2 linked regions of the Homo sapiens genome follow. The protein of the gene in region 2 interacts with the protein of the main gene of each other region in a pairwise test. Each region holds a gene or a part of one and is shown on either strand. Other genes may lie near its edges.

What was found.
Region 1: the proteins of CETN1 (region 2) and POC5 interact in binary tests that used the Homo sapiens proteins (3 or more experiments, as listed by UniProt).

What each region holds. Positions count from the first base shown.
Region 1 is NC_000005.10:75,707,083-75,715,041, reverse strand, and holds part of POC5 (centrosomal protein POC5), read left to right. Parts: intron 1-2,090; 5' UTR 2,091-2,104; coding exon 2,105-2,188; intron 2,189-2,381; exon of another isoform or gene 2,382-2,435; intron 2,436-2,609; exon of another isoform or gene 2,610-2,657; coding exon of another isoform or gene 2,658-2,666; intron 2,667-7,166; coding exon 7,167-7,305; intron 7,306-7,959. UniProt on the Homo sapiens protein: Essential for the assembly of the distal half of centrioles, required for centriole elongation. Acts as a negative regulator of centriole elongation.
Region 2 is NC_000018.10:575,676-583,307, reverse strand, and holds CETN1 (centrin-1), read right to left. Parts: upstream 2,929-7,632; 5' UTR 2,900-2,928; coding exon 2,381-2,899; 3' UTR 1,194-2,380; downstream 1-1,193. UniProt on the Homo sapiens protein: Plays a fundamental role in microtubule-organizing center structure and function. Plays a role in sperm cilia formation.

The DNA of each region.
Region 1 (7,959 bases), on a different chromosome or scaffold from region 2:
CGTGCCCGGCCTGGGCAGTTCTTTATAGCAGTTTGAAAAACGTACTAATACAGGACCTCAGGATAAGAACTTTTTCTCACATTCCTTTTTTATAGGTGGTCTCATCCATTCCCTTTTTTCAGCAGTTCCCATTATGCCAGTGATTCCTCAAACTGGATCTCCAACTTATACCTCCAGTGCGGCGCTCCCACAATGCTTAACTCCAGGAAACACCATTCACAGTGTAGCCATTGTGAATGGCAGTTCTTGGAGTAGCGCACTACGTAGCCAGTGTGACCACAGACTGCATACTTGCAGCTTTACCCTAGTGCCTCAGAGGCATCCTCACACCCAGCTCATCTGATATGGCACTCATTGTCCTTCCTCCCAACCTGCTCATCTTCCTACCTTCCTTGCCTTGGTGAGTGGCACTATCCATCTAGTTACCCAAACCGGAGATCTGGAAGCCACCAACAGTTCTTTTTAACCCCTTGATCTATTATTGATCATTTTCTCTTTCCATCACCATAACACAACTGTCTTGTAGTCATACCCTCCATCCCCTTCCCATTGCTACTTCCTAGACTTAGGTCATCATTTATCTTCTTAATTACTATCAAAGAGAACATTTATCTCTTAGACTACTGCAGTCAGCTCTCAATTGATCTCTCTCTCTTTTTTTTTTGAGACGGAGTCTCTGTCACCCAGGCTGGAGTGCAGTGGTGCGATCTTGGCTCACTGCAGCCTCCACCCCCAGGGTTCTAGCTATTCTCCTGCCTCAGCCTCCCAAGTAGCTGGGATTACAGGCACCTGCCACCAGGCTCGGCTAATTGTTTTGTATTTTTAATAGAGACAGGGTTTCGCCATGTTGGCCAGGCTGGTCTCAAACTCCTGACCTCAGGTGATCCACCTACCTCAGCCTCCCAAAGTGCTAGGATTACAGGCATGATTCACTGCACCCAGCCTGATCTCTCTTAATATCCAAATTCATCCTCAACGCTGCTGGAATGATCTTTCTGATCATGTAACTTTTAAAAAATATTTCAATAACTTGTCTAGAATAAACACCCAGATTTTTAATATGACAAGTTTTGACCTTCCATGATCTGGCTGCTCCTTACTTTTTGTTTCATCCTTAGCCAATCCTTTGCACCCATTGCTTTGTCCTTACCAAACTGCTTGCTGTTCGTGGCATACATGTCCATGGCTCTGTCTTTGCTTATATTGCTCTACTGCCTAGAATATCTACACCTGTGTTTATACCTTTTATCCATCTTTCAGGATGAGACCTACTCATCTTTCAGATCTCAACACCTGGGTCATCTTCTCTAAAAACTTTCTGTGCCTCCTTTCCTGCTTATTTACAGTCATGCAATCTTACCCCATGAAAAATAGCTACTCCTATCTCTCTACTTTGTATCTGTTATTTTAGGGCCTATCAGCAGTTTATTCATCAGTCGGTCACTTATATAATATACATGCCTGGCCCTCTCTACAGATTGTAAACTCCTTAAGAATGAGGACTTCATTTTACATTCCTCACCAATGTCTTACATATTACTGGTATTCAGATAGTTCGAATAGTCACTATTTGTTCTTTGAATAATTCGGTTACTTGTTACTAAAAGTACTTTTAATGATTTTTTGATTAGGACTTTCAACAAATTCTCTATGCATATATTTGATTCTGTTGTTCTGTATAAGCTCACTTTTCTTAAAATAATATTTCCAAAGGTAAGTTTCCCAAGAAGGGAATTTGCACAAATTGTTTGTTCTCTCTTGGTTCTGTGTCTTAGAGGAAAGTACACAGCACCCAGGTTGTCACACATTGCTCAAGAACAGTGATCACAATCTATTATGCTCAACAGGCCCCGCTGGGGATTTTTCTGAAGACCTGACTACGTTATAAACTCACTAATATTGGGACTGGGTCTTCAACTGTTTTTTGCCCAGTGATTTTTTGCCTGTAGGTACTCAATATGTTGAATGAATGATTTTAGCATATCACAGGAAGATTGCAGATTTGGATACTGTTGCACTTATATATATCTGGAAAGGATTTTATCTTAAATATCAAGGAAAAAAGCTAAAGTTAGCTTCTACTGTTTTAGAGCATTTGTGCAGAATGTCATCAGATGAGGAGAAATACTCACTTCCAGTTGTGCAAAATGACTCCAGTCGAGGCAGTTCTGTCTCTTCGAATCTTCAGGTAGGAAAAAATTTCTAAATTTACCATGACTTTTTTTATTTTAAACAAATGAATGTAAGGGAAAACTAGGATTTTTTAATAATTTTTTCATCCATTTACAAGGGAGTTTTTCAATTTATAATAATATCAAACTTCAGGAATTACTGTACACATTTTAGGAGTGACTTTACATTGTTTTAACTTTTCAGAAAATATTGATGAACTCTTCATACACTCTGTACAAAGGCTTCAACCAACACAGTAAGAGGTGAAACAAATGTTCAAGAAACATTTTTTTGTTTAAATTTTTTTCATTTTAGCTACCTCTCATGAATGCTACTTTCACTTTTAATGCAAATTAATACAATATCAAACCATCCAAAGTTCTAGAGCTCAAGATTCCCTTGTGTTCTACTTGCTGAGGTTTGGTCTCTGTTGTCACAACATTCAGTACAATCTGCTGCCCAGGACCTGGACATTGACAGATAAAATGAAGTGGGTCAGTTAACTACAGAGGGTGTGGTATTTACATGAAATGTTTTAAATTTCTCTTATTTCTAAATATTTCATCATCAAAAATATGGATTTAGATTTCTGGAGTAGATTTTAAATATGAGAATAATGACATGGTATATCTTAAATTTTACAGTTGTATTACTCAAGGGGAAAGGCTGTTTATGCCTAAGCATATGAAATTGTTATTGATTCTGTACGATATGAGAAAAGCTTTAGGAAAATATTTTATGAAACAAATTTGTTCCTTTAATCGAAATTATGGATTTCAAAATGGGGAAGGTATTGGGAAAATATCTGAATATTTACAGGATAAAACTAGTCTGGAGTTGTGGCAGAGCTTTTGCACCCTAGCCTTCCCTTTTGATGGTACCTGTCCCATGTAGTCCTCTCTTCAGGTGACAGTACTTCCTCCACCCTTCATCGCTGTCTGATTGAAACTTGAAGATAGAACTGATTAACTCATTTATACTAAAATGTAAACACCTTGTGAGCTCTCAAATTTCATTTCGTGAAGAGATAAAGCTTTAAATCAAAAGAATAACTCTCTAGAGTGGAATTTTAGAGAGACGGAAGAAGAACCTGCCAGAAATTATTTTGTGTTATTGTTTACCCACCTATAATGTAAGCTCAACTGAGAGTCTATTACTGTCAACTAATGTTCCTACTGGTTCTTGGACTGAAGTTGAAAGCCTCTCCATATTCCCTGTACATACAGTGTTATTACTTTGGGTTTCACTACTGGAAGCACTTCAAAATATAAATACAAAAAAAAATCTTAAAAATAACATAAAATACACATTTTTACATATGTAGTAAATATGTAAATCCAAACATTTAATACAAAAGCCCCTCATAAATAAATATTCCTCTTAAGGAACTTTTTTGTTACTCTCTTTTTATGCGAATGCTTCATAAGCCAGAAGGTGGTAAATGCTGAGGGATGGGCAGCATCCATAGTGCTTATACACTGAAAATTTCCTCTAACCACAGCTCCTATCAGCCAAGTTGCTCTGACTCTAATGGTTGAGGCATGGGTGGAGCTATATTTCAGGGTCATATCAATTCAGCTCTTGGGGGTTGGGGAGGGGGGCAAAATTACAAGTTTTGAATGTTAACAGAGGTTATGTTTGGCAATTAAGAAAGCCAATATTGTTTATTTTGATTCTTAATTTTAAATTTTATTTTTAAATAACTTATTTGGCTTGTGTCTACATATATGAAACTCTAAAATAGTCATTTAAATAACTGATTTTTTCTAAATGTTTTCTTGAAATAAGTTGGAATATATGGTCATGGAATACTATTGACATATACTTATTTATTTCCCCTTTAAGCCATAGCAATTGTGGTAAAATATATGAAATATATGAATATGTATGAAGTATATGATTTGAAATATGTGTTTGGATCTTTTTTTTCCTTCTCTTATCCAGAGCAGAAGTCAGACTAGGGAAGCCACAAGTGAAAGCCACTGACTTCCACTTCTCCCTCCGTTCCTACATGCTAGAGGTGGTGATAGGCTAACTCTGAGTAGAGCTGACTTGGCTAAATCTAGTTGCAACTGACACCACAGCAGGAACACTATAAAAAGTTTATGAACCTCACAATATAAGATCACCATCATATTAATCTGCTCAGGCTACCATAACAAAGTACCATAAATTCATAGGCTTAAACAACAGACATTTATCTTCTCACAGTTCTGGAGGCTAGAAGTCCCAGATCACAGCCCAAAAGGGTCAGTTTCTGGTGAGGGCTCTCTTTGTGGATTGCAGACAGGTGCCTTCTTGCTGTATCTTTGCATGGCCTTTCCTCAGTACAGTATGTGCAGGTGGGAGGAGAGCATGCACAAGGTTCCTGGTGTCTCTTCTGATGAGTACATTAATGCTCTCAGGGCCCCAACCAATGACCTTATTTAACCTTAATTACTTTCTTGAAGGCCTCATCTCCAAATACAGCCACACTGGGTGTTAGGGCTTCAGCATATGAATTTTGAGGGGACACAAACATTCAGACTCCGTAACTCCATAACAGCCACACTTTTATATATTCTTAGCCAAAATCAAAAGTATATTTTGGGTGTTTGGGAAGTATAATAGTGCTTTAACAGAAACCAAGTAAGGGTGGTTTAAGTGGGTTCCTTACAGTTTCATTCTGTCTCTCATAAATTCTGAGCTGATACGTAGTCCTGAGATCATCTGAGGACCCAATCCCTTCTCTCTTTTTGCTGTACCATGAGCTGTTGACCGTGTTTGCATTGTCAGGTACTGGTGCACTGACAGTGTACTACCACTAGCCCATGGGAAGAGGGGACCAGCAGGAAGCAGCTTCGTTTTTAAGGACTTCACCTAAAGTTGTACACATCATTTCCAGTTGAATCCCATAGACCAGGTCTCTTGGCCACACCTAGCTGCAGAGGAGGCTGGGAAATGTAGCTGGGTGGCCATTTGCCCAAATCAAACCCTGGGGCTTTATTAAGTTAAAGAAATTAAAAAGAAATGGATGCTGCTGGATTAGTTACAGTCTCTATGCACTTGAAATTTTATGTATTAGTTTATTAGGACCAACACACACATTCAGGTTTATAGGAACTAGTAAATATCTTGTGCATGGCCCCAATTTATTAAGCTCTTTGGGAATTTCTTTTTGATAATTAGAAAACCAATATGCTTTGGGAAGTGTATTTTTTTTAACCTAAGGATATTTAAATCTATTTAAATAATCATAGTTACTTTTGTCAATGTAAAAATTAAATGTTGGTGCTCGCTTCAGCAGCACATATACTAAAACTGGAGCCACACAGAAAATTAGCATGGACCCTGTGCAAGGAGGACATGCAAATTTGTGAAATGTTCTATAATTTTTTAATAATTTTTTTAAGTTTTATAATATAAAAAAAGTTGTATTGTGATATCCTAAATGATTTGTTTCCTAATAAGAGCCTTCTGTCTCAGTGATAACCATTATGTAAAATACTGATTTTTATTTGCTACTAGGAAATGTAAGTTTAAAACTCAGACAGATGTTTATTCTCATGAAGGTGACATCACTAACAAAAATGGTTGATTATAGCAATATGAAGGAGATTCTGGTTGAATTTTCTAAAGATTTTCTCTTTGAAATATCTCTCTCTTCCTCTTCTGTCGTTAGCCTTAAAATATATAAAAATCAGTATTTGCTATACCTAATGTTTACTGCGTGTAAGTATCTATGTTAAATATGTGAATCAGGCCGGGTGCAGTGGCTCACGCCTGTAATCCTAGCACTTTGGGGGTCCAGGGCTGTGGATCAAGAGGTCAGGAGTTCAAGACCAGCCTGACCAACATGGTGAAACCCCATCTCTACTAAAAGTACAAAAATTAGGTGGGCGTGGTGGTACAAACCTGTAATTCCAGATACTCAGGAGGCTGAGGCAGGAGAATCGCTTGAACCTGGGAGGCAGAGGTTGCGGTGAGCCAAGACCATGCCACTGCACTCCAGCCTGGGCTACAGAGCAAGACTCCATCTCAAAAAAAAAGAAGAAAAAAATTGTAAATCAAGAAATCAAGGTTGAAGCGCAAACCAGGTCACTCTTGTACATGTAATTGCCATAAAAGCTAGCAGTTTTCAAATATATAAAAGCATAAGCTTTTTTAAAAAACAATTTTACTTAAAATTCCGATATAAAAAAGCAGATGAAAACAAAACTACAGTAGTATAGATTTATTTTGTAAATTCAAATGCAATCAGTTAATAAAAACAGTTAAGCTGCCTTGATAAATGTACATTTGAAATTGGGGGGTAATAGAAGGCCATTGCAGTTTTATAAACTTAAGTATCCAGTTTGCTTCTATATTTTGTTTAGGTTACATAATTTTTTTTCAGTTCCAAAAATGGTATCTTTTTAATAGCATGTCTCATCTTCAATTAAACCAATCTGACATATAAAATTAAGTGATAGAAAATTTTTGATTCAGTGTTGAGTCACTCACAGAACCTTATCACCTCTTCATACTTTGTTGTTGTTTCCCCAGAGACAGGATCTTGCTCTGTCACCCAGGCTGGGGTGCAGTGGTGCCATCTTGTCTTACTGCAGCTTCCAGTTCCTAGGCTTAAGTGGTCCTCCTGCCTCAGCCTCCTGAGTAGCTACAACTACAGGCACACACCACCACACCTAGCAAATTTTTGTAAAAAATTTATTGTAGAGATGAGGTCTCACTTTGTTGCTCAGGCTTCAAGCCATCCTCCTGCCTCAGCCTCTCAAAGTGCTGAGTTTACAGGCATGAGTCACTGCACCCAGCCCTCTTCAAACTGTTAATCATAAATATAAAAATCACACAAGAAGCACTCGAGGAACTCAAGCTTGGAATAAGTGGTAAAACTTTGTAATATAATAAGCATGGGACTCTATTATGGTAATTAAATTTCTTTAAAACAAATTCAGTTGAATATATTATAACATTGTAACTGTTACACTACATTATTGATTATTGGCCTCTCTTAGGAAGAATATGAAGAACTGCTTCATTATGCTATAGTGACTCCAAATATTGAACCCTGTGCTTCACAGTCATCTCATCCTAAGGGAGAATTGGTGCCAGATGTCAGAATTTCTACAATTCATGATATTCTTCATAGTCAAGGTTATATATATTTTTCAAGATATCTCTTAATTTAAAATATTACTGAGTTTATTAATGATACTGACAGGATTGTGAAAATGCCTGTCCAGATCAGTGATTCTTCTCAACCATTTATGTGTATTAGTATCATCTAGGGGAGCTTTTTACATTTTAATATATTATTCCTGACTCTCGTGTGACAGCTTGATTTTTCTTTGAACTTCATTTGACTCTTACTTTTATGAAGAATAATAAAGTTGAAGCAATGCTATGGCAACTGCATGGCTTTTTGGTATGTTGTATCTCAGTACTTGTTCCAACAGTTTTATGCCAGGATTAACCTGAAAACTAAATGCCCAAGACTAAAATTAAAGATGGTAACCCTGAGAGTCTCTTAAATTACTTTACAAACCTCATGCTAGTGCTTTATCAGCAGTATTTATATGGGCATGGAGGACTGTTTGAATAATTATCACAAGGTGAACCCATCTGTGGACCATGTCAGCAACAGAACTGAAAGCTACTATAAACCAGGATGTGTGTTGATAGATGAGTGAAAAGTGGAGAAAAGAGGATAAAGCTCCTTTTACCTCCATTCCTTATTCAGGTGAAGACAACATCCCAAACTCTAAATAAATGTTCTTTCAAAGGGCACAGAAAGCCTTCCTAAAACAG
Region 2 (7,632 bases):
CCCTGCTGATTTTTGTAATTTGAGTAGAGACAGGGTTTTACTATGTTGCCCAGGCTGGTCTCCAACTCCTGACCTCAAGTGATCCACCAGCCTCGGCCTCCCAAAGTGCTGGGATTACAGGCGTGAGCCACCACACCTGGCCAGTTCTTCCCAATCTTCCCAATCTTCATAGCCGTGTTTCCTCATCTGCAAATAGGTGTCTGTAGATTTCCATTGAATTTTTTTGTGTTCTACTTTTGTAAAGACTAAGAGACATGGCTGACCCAGCCAATGTATGATTAACTTATCTTAAAATTCAAACGCCAGTTTAGACCTGTTCCACTAGACCCTCCTCCCCTTGTCCCCATATTCTCTAGAGTATTAGCCTATTGAGAAGCAGGAGAATGCACTATTGAGTGAATTGAGAGGTTCTTCCCTGGCAGTGAGTGGGATTCAGAAATATTCTGGGGCCCCCTTTCCTTTTTTGGAGCGGACCATGCCCTTAGGCCACCCCTTTAAGGCTATGCATGGTGTGTGGCCAGCCCAACCACTGGGCTTCAGCCTGGGTTCCTGGTTTTCTCTTCTATCATCTGCCGGGCCAGTAGCCAAGGCTGAGCCCAGTCCAGTTGGCTGAGACTCTGCTTCTCCTAGTTTCTGCCAACTTTCTTTGTTTCTGGTATTTCTACTTTAATTCATACGTTGATCCTTGGGCCAAGACTCTGGTCAACAGGATACCAGGAACTCTTGCTTCCCAGAATGCCCCCTCCTTCCCCTGCCCTCAGATCAGGCCCTTCATACTGATGTTGGCCCAAGTTGCACCTGTTCCCATCCTGACTGCACCTTAGTCCACACTAAGACCTTGAACCTGAACTGTTAGCATCTTGCAGCCTGGGTGAGTTCCCCTACCCTGTGCCAGGCACCTCAGCAAAATCCTCACAGTGAATGCTTCCATACCCATCACTTCAGCTAGTACTGCCGCTTTGACAAATTAGTCCCTGTTAATGAGAATTAAGCCCAGGGTAGTTTGTTCCCCTGATTAGATCCACACCCTCTGAAGGGTAAAATTGCTGGCAAAGCAAGTGAAATGTTCCCAGAATTTGAGCATTTATCTTAATGGGGCTTTGTATGAGGATTTAATTTAGGTTTAGTTGTGACCAAAATATCCTGCCTCTTTGTTTTGTTGCCTGTTATTAAAACATTAGTCAAAGCCTCCATCTCAGCAGATCTATTTGTTATTTTCCCACAATTACATTTTTAAAATTTTCTTTAACTTCAGATTTGTAGCTATGCAAAATGATGATATCTTACTCCAAAGCAAAAAATAATTTATAACAGAAAACAAGCAGTATTAACACATAAACAAGCCACAGTGGAGCAGTTTACTGGGATTTGTAAAATAGAGCACTACTGAAATGCCAGACACTCTGACATCAACTATATGTCAGAGGGGCTAAAAGTCAAGTACCAAGAACCAAGATGTTCTAAGGATTAGCAGGGAGAGTGTCTCATAATCAAGCAGTAATAAGATGACTAAGGTTATAATAGTCCAATAACTAAGATATTTGTTGCTATTTCCAAGGACTATAAGTAGCTTAAAATGTTATATTAAGGTATTTGTTATAATTTCCTAAACTAAGATCCTACATTTGTAAATATTTACTCAAAATCGTTTGTTAGCGTAACCTCTTAAGCAAATTATACTTTGCTTGGGCCAGTATTAGATTTTATTTTTATTCTGTAGCCCAGGTATACATACTAGCCCTAGATAAACCCATGGTGGACAATTTACACATGAACGAAGAATCATTTGCAGGTATAAAGCCAGTGAATAGTCAAAATTGCACAACGTACTACCACCCAAGCAAGTCTATTCTTTATAAGATTATCTGTCCTGAGCTCCGTAAGTTTGTAAGTGGCCACCCTGTTTTCCTTCAAACTGGTATTCAGCTAAGTGGACAGGCTAGGCAAATCTACTGGCAGATTCCATCTCATTATGCTGGAACAATGACTGGAATTTAAGGAATGATATATGAAGCAAGATAATTTAAGACCACCAAAGAAGTGACAAAGGGAACCACATTTTTGTGTGTCCCAGAAGCTGTCCTGCCTCCAGATCAACAGATGAACAGCAAGTTCAGCACAGGGCAAATGGAGGGCGCACTCAAACTTCAGGGCCCTTTGTTTAACCTCATGTGCTCCAGGTTGACTCTTGAGAATTAAAACCCAAAACTCACATTACAAGCATCTTTCAAATTCTATTATTGAACTAGAGATATGGAAATAGATCTAGACAAATTATGGGGGTGAGGGGGTGAAGAAGGGACAGGCAGCCGCTGTCCTCTAAGGTTTCACAAAATGGAAGCAGGCAACCCAGAGAGTCACTTTAGCTTCTGAACCGACTTCAGTAAAGGCTGGTCTTCTTCATGATCCGAAGGAACTCCTCCTCGTTCACTTCGCCGTCCCCATCCCGATCAGCTTCGTCGATCATCTCCTGCAGCTCCTCATCCGTGAGGTTCTCCCCCAGCTCGTTGGCCACACGCTTCAGGTTTTTGAACGAGATCTTCCCGGTCTCATCGTCATCAAAGAGCCTGAAGGCCTTCAGGATTTCTTCTTTGGTGTCCTTCTCGGACATCTTCTGCGTCATCACGGCCAGGAAGTCATTGAAGCTGATCTTCCCCGTGCCTTCCCTGTCCACCTCGGAGATCATTTTCTTCATCTCTTCCTTCCTGGGTTCGAAGCCCAGCGCTCTCATGGCCACCTTCAGCTCCTTCGCGTCGATGGTCCCACTTCCGTCCACGTCGAAGAGGTCAAATGCTTCCCGAACTTCTTGCTTCTGATCCTCAGTGAGCTCGGGCTTAGGTGCCACCTTTCTCTTTTGGCCGGTGGAGGCAGCGCTGGGCTTCTTGAAGCCGGAAGCCATCCTGCCGCTCTGGCCGCCGTGGTCCCAACGGCACCGCCCCGCGCTCTCATTCGGGCGCCCCCCGCCGGCGCGGCGCGGGACCACCCCTCGCTCACTGCCAACGCCCACGCCCGCTGGGGCCTGGAGCCGGCCCGGGGAACCTCTTCCTACGCCCTCCCATCTGCGGGATCTTGCTTAGGCGAGAATCCGCTGTCCCCTCGGGTCATTAACCGGTTTCCACGAGTTGACGCCTGAGCTGGCAAGAACAGCCTGTAGCCACAGTTGTCTTCTGTAATCCACTGGCGCTGGCAGTTCTTTCCAAGATATGTGCTAGCATCCATAAGACCCCAGTTTTATAGGTTTCTTTAGGGACTCTTCCTCTCTCTCTCTCTCTCTCTCCTCTCTCTCTTTTGACAGGAGTGCACTGGTGCCACTCAGCTTACTGCAGCCTCCACCTTCCAGGATCAAGTGATCCTCCCACCTCAGCCTCCATAGTAGCTGAGACTACAGGGCATGCCACCACACCCAGCTAAATTAAAAAAAAAAATTTTTTTTTTTATAGAGACAGAGTCTCACCATGTTGCCCAGGCTGGTCTGAAACTCCTGGGATCAAGGGATTTCCCGCCCCAGCCTCCCAAAGTGCTAGAATTACAGGCATGAGCTACCAAGCCGGGCCTCTCCTTTTTATACCATTTAAAAAACCCTCTTGTTCTAGCGGCAACACCCAATGAGGTGACAGGTCCTAAGGGTAAATTTAGGATAATCAAGATTGAGTGTGATCACTTGACATTCAATGTGGGGAAGGAGAAGGAAGAGAGAATATTAAAAGTCATACCATGTGTTCAACTTGACATAAATGGGAAACAGAGAAAATGGAAAAATTTATGTATAAAATGCGTAGAAGTTTGTCTCCTGACATTACACTCAACAATAATACAATGTTTCTGGCATGTTCTCAAATATGAAATGTAATATCCAAATGTATGATTTACTTTCAGTGTTTCCATTTTACATACTCAGTATAATTGCACTTGAATAATGGTCATAATTTCATTCATGAGGCTTTTGATTTGGAGGGAGGGAAGTGGAAATACTACATTCTGGTATATTCTAGTATTTTCTTTTCTCTAACCTCCTAGCAGCACATTACTCTCCTTGCTTATCATCCAATCAGAGCTGTGCTGAAACCCACGCTCTGGTCGCCTTCCTTTGGCAATGGGCACAGGAGATGATGCAGGACATGTTGGGACTCAAAATTGCCTCCTGGGAATAAAGCGGTTCTCCTACAAACCAAAGAGCAAGAGGAAAATGGAAAAGAAAAAAAAAATTACCAAATAAGCCCACCAAGGAATTGCCTGTAGAATTACTTTGCATTCTTTTAAATAGTTACAGAAAAGAAAGCTGACTTATTTTTTTAGCATTCTCCCCCTGCCCCGCCCCCCCGCAATCAAATCTCAATCTATTAATATATCAATACCTTTTGTAACCTATGAAGGTTACAAAAGATGTCACTTTGAAGAGTTTGTGTTAAAGAGTTTTATGGCTGGGTGCAGTGGGTCACACCTGTAATCCCAGTAATTTGGGAGGCCAAGGCGGGAGGATCACCTGAGGTCAGGAGTTCAAGACCAGCCTGGCCAACAAGGTGAAACCCTGTCTCTATGAAAAATACGAAAATTAGCTGAGAGTTGCTGCGCACAACTGTAATCCCAGCTACTTGGGAGTATGAGGCACGGGAATCGCTTGAACCCAGGAGGCGGAGGTTGCAGTGAGCAGATATTGTGCCCCTGCACTCCACCCTAGGCAACAGAGTGAGATTCTGTCCCCAAAAAAACAAACAACAACAAAACAAAACAGTGCTGGATACAACACAGTAGGTAGGTTAATAAATATTCGTTGAATGAATGCATGACAATTAAGGTTGGTCCTAAAATACCTTCTGAATACAACAAGTGAAAACCCCAAAAGATTAAATGATGCCAGGAATGTTTTACAAACTGTTTTTTAAAATTAGTGGTCAGATATTGTTTACATGGCACATTTAATTAGCCATATATCACTACCTGCCCCAGTTCGATATGTGACTTAGTTGACAGAGAGCCTGGACACAGGGTTTCTTCTAAAGGCCAAGGAAACTTACATAGGACCTCCCCTCTCCTGCCTTCCAGTACTTGTTGTGGACAGTGTCAACTCAAGGCACACTGGCAGGCAGACACTACAGCTGCTGTTCTTCTAACACCGCAAATCCTTGTGACCTGCTTTTTTCCATGTCAGAAGCCTGGGATCTTATCCCAAGTCTATGCCTTATTATCTCTGTGACTTTGGAAAGTCACTTAAACCACCCAGAGTCATCGAAACACCTGCAAAGTAGGCATCATCATAAAGCTTCCCACTGCATTTTCAGTGGGAGAATGTACACAAAAGCTCCAGGAACAGTGCCCTAGTGGGGCCATACAGATCTGGGTAATTGTTAGTTGAATAAGAATTTTTCTCAGACATTGTACATTTCCTTTGGCACCCACCCTTCTGCCCAAATTCAAGCCAAGCTATGATGTGTTGGGAAAAACTGAAGTATGGAAGCTGCCTTATATAGAGCTACATTTGGGCCAAGCTGAACTAAAAGCAAAACGGTTGTCATGGTTTCCAGATGTGTGCAATCAACAGTTACAACAAAGGGCCACCAAGAGCTCCCTTCATAGAAACAGTGCCCATAGTCACAGTCAGCTCTTGGTGGGGAGTTACATTATGTTCAGAGTCCAAACTCTGACTTAAGAAGGGAAGGGAAACACATTTAATGTGTGCCTAGCTTTGGGCGTGCTTCTCATAGTTGTCATCTTATTTGATCCTTGCCATCATTTCCTATTTTGCAGATGAAAAAAATGAGGCCCAGGAGAGGCCTGTAACACATATTTAATGGTACATGGCCAATAAATGGTGGCTCTGGGATTTAAATCCTGGCCTGCTGAAGCTTTGTTCACTACATCATGCTGCCTTCTCCACAAGTTGATTCTATATTACCAAAATATAGAATCACTGGGAAGACATGATACAGATTTTGTTACAGTAGGTAGCTAGTCAGGCATGAGCGGGGCAGAGAAGGGCTCCCCTCCCAACCCGCCAGGAATGTCAGGTGATGATCAGGGGATGGTTTGGCAGTTGTCACACTGCCTCTCTAAAATGATCATTGATCATGGCCACAACAGGGAGAGGCAGTTTCCCAACAGATGAATACACTTGAAATTGGTAGTCGGCAGCTTCCAATAAGATCTCAGGAATTGGGCCAGTGGGCTTGAGCATGCGCATTAAGAGACAAAATGGCAGCGTATGACCTTCTAGGGGCGTTCCACTGGAAAAGGGGAAGAAAGCCTCAGGTGATCACGCATACAACTTCTTAAACACACTGCCCATGCTCACCTCCCAATCCCAAGCAGGGCACTATGCATGTGGGCGGTTCACCTTAAGAGAAGAATAAGGGAAAGGGGCACAAGATGCGGGAAGTAGGCCAGCGTATAAAATCCTAGGTTCAAGATCAAACGGGGCACTTGACCTCCAGGGCGTCCATTGGCTCTCTTCCAGGTGTACTTGTGAAGTGGCCTTGTTGCCTGGGGTGACACCCAAGGTTCTCGGTCTCACGGCCACGGAGGTAAAGGATGTGGAAACACACAAAGGGTGAGGTTTCGAGCAGAATTTTAATAGGTGAAAGAAGGAGAATAGCTCTCTGCCCCAGAGAAGGGTCCCGAGAAAAGGAGTTGCCGATCCGTGGTTAAATGCAGGGGGTTTTATAGATGAGCTAGTGGGGAGGCGGTGTCTGACCTACAAAGGGCATGAAAAACTGGTTAGGACCGGGTGTGCCATCTGCATAGGGCACGAATCTCTGGCAGCCCCCACCCCAGTCTTTTATTATGCCCGTGGCTAGATACTCCATGTTACTTCTTCCTTCCTTCCTTCCTTCCTTCCTTCCTTCCTTCCTTCCTTCCTTCCTTCCTCTCTCTCTCTCTCTTTCTTTCTTTTTTTGAGTAGGAGTCTCACTCTGTCACCCAGGCTGGAGTGCAGTGGTGAGATCTGGGCTCACTGCAACCTCCGCCTCCCAGGTTCAAGCGATTCTCCTGCTTCAGCCTCCTAAGTAGCTGGGATTACAGGTGTGCGTCACCACGCCCGGCTAATTTTTGTATTTTTAGTGGAGACGGGGTTTCACCATGTTGGTCAGGCTGGTCTCAAACTCCTGACCTTGTGATCCGCCTGCCTCGGCCTCCCAGAGTGCTGGGATTACAGGCGTGAGCCACCGGGCCCGGCCGCTTATTTCCTTCTTACTGTGCATGTGCTAAAAATAGAGGGGAGGTGGAGCCCCCAGGGTGGACATTCCTGGCCCCAGGTACCTCTTTCTAACTGTGCAGCTTCTGGCATCCCCTCGTGCAAGTTTCCAGCTTCCTTATCTATGTTTGCAGCCCGATCTCCCAGGCTGCTCTTTGTTAGAAAAGAAGGGATTTCTTGGGCTGTTCTTTGTTAGCAGGGAAGTTCTGCCGAGGACTCTTTTGCCCTCATTATCTGCTTAAAATAATTTCTGTCTCCAGTATCACTTGCCTTATGTTCCTGCTCTAAAGCGTTTTAATAAACGCTCTGAAACTTGCCTCAGTCTCTTTTTCTGCCGTATGACCCTGAGTTGAATTCTTTCTTCTGAGGATGTAGGAATTGAGGTTGCTGCAGACCCATACGGATTCTATTAAGGTAACTTGGATATTCGCTACTAGTGATACATT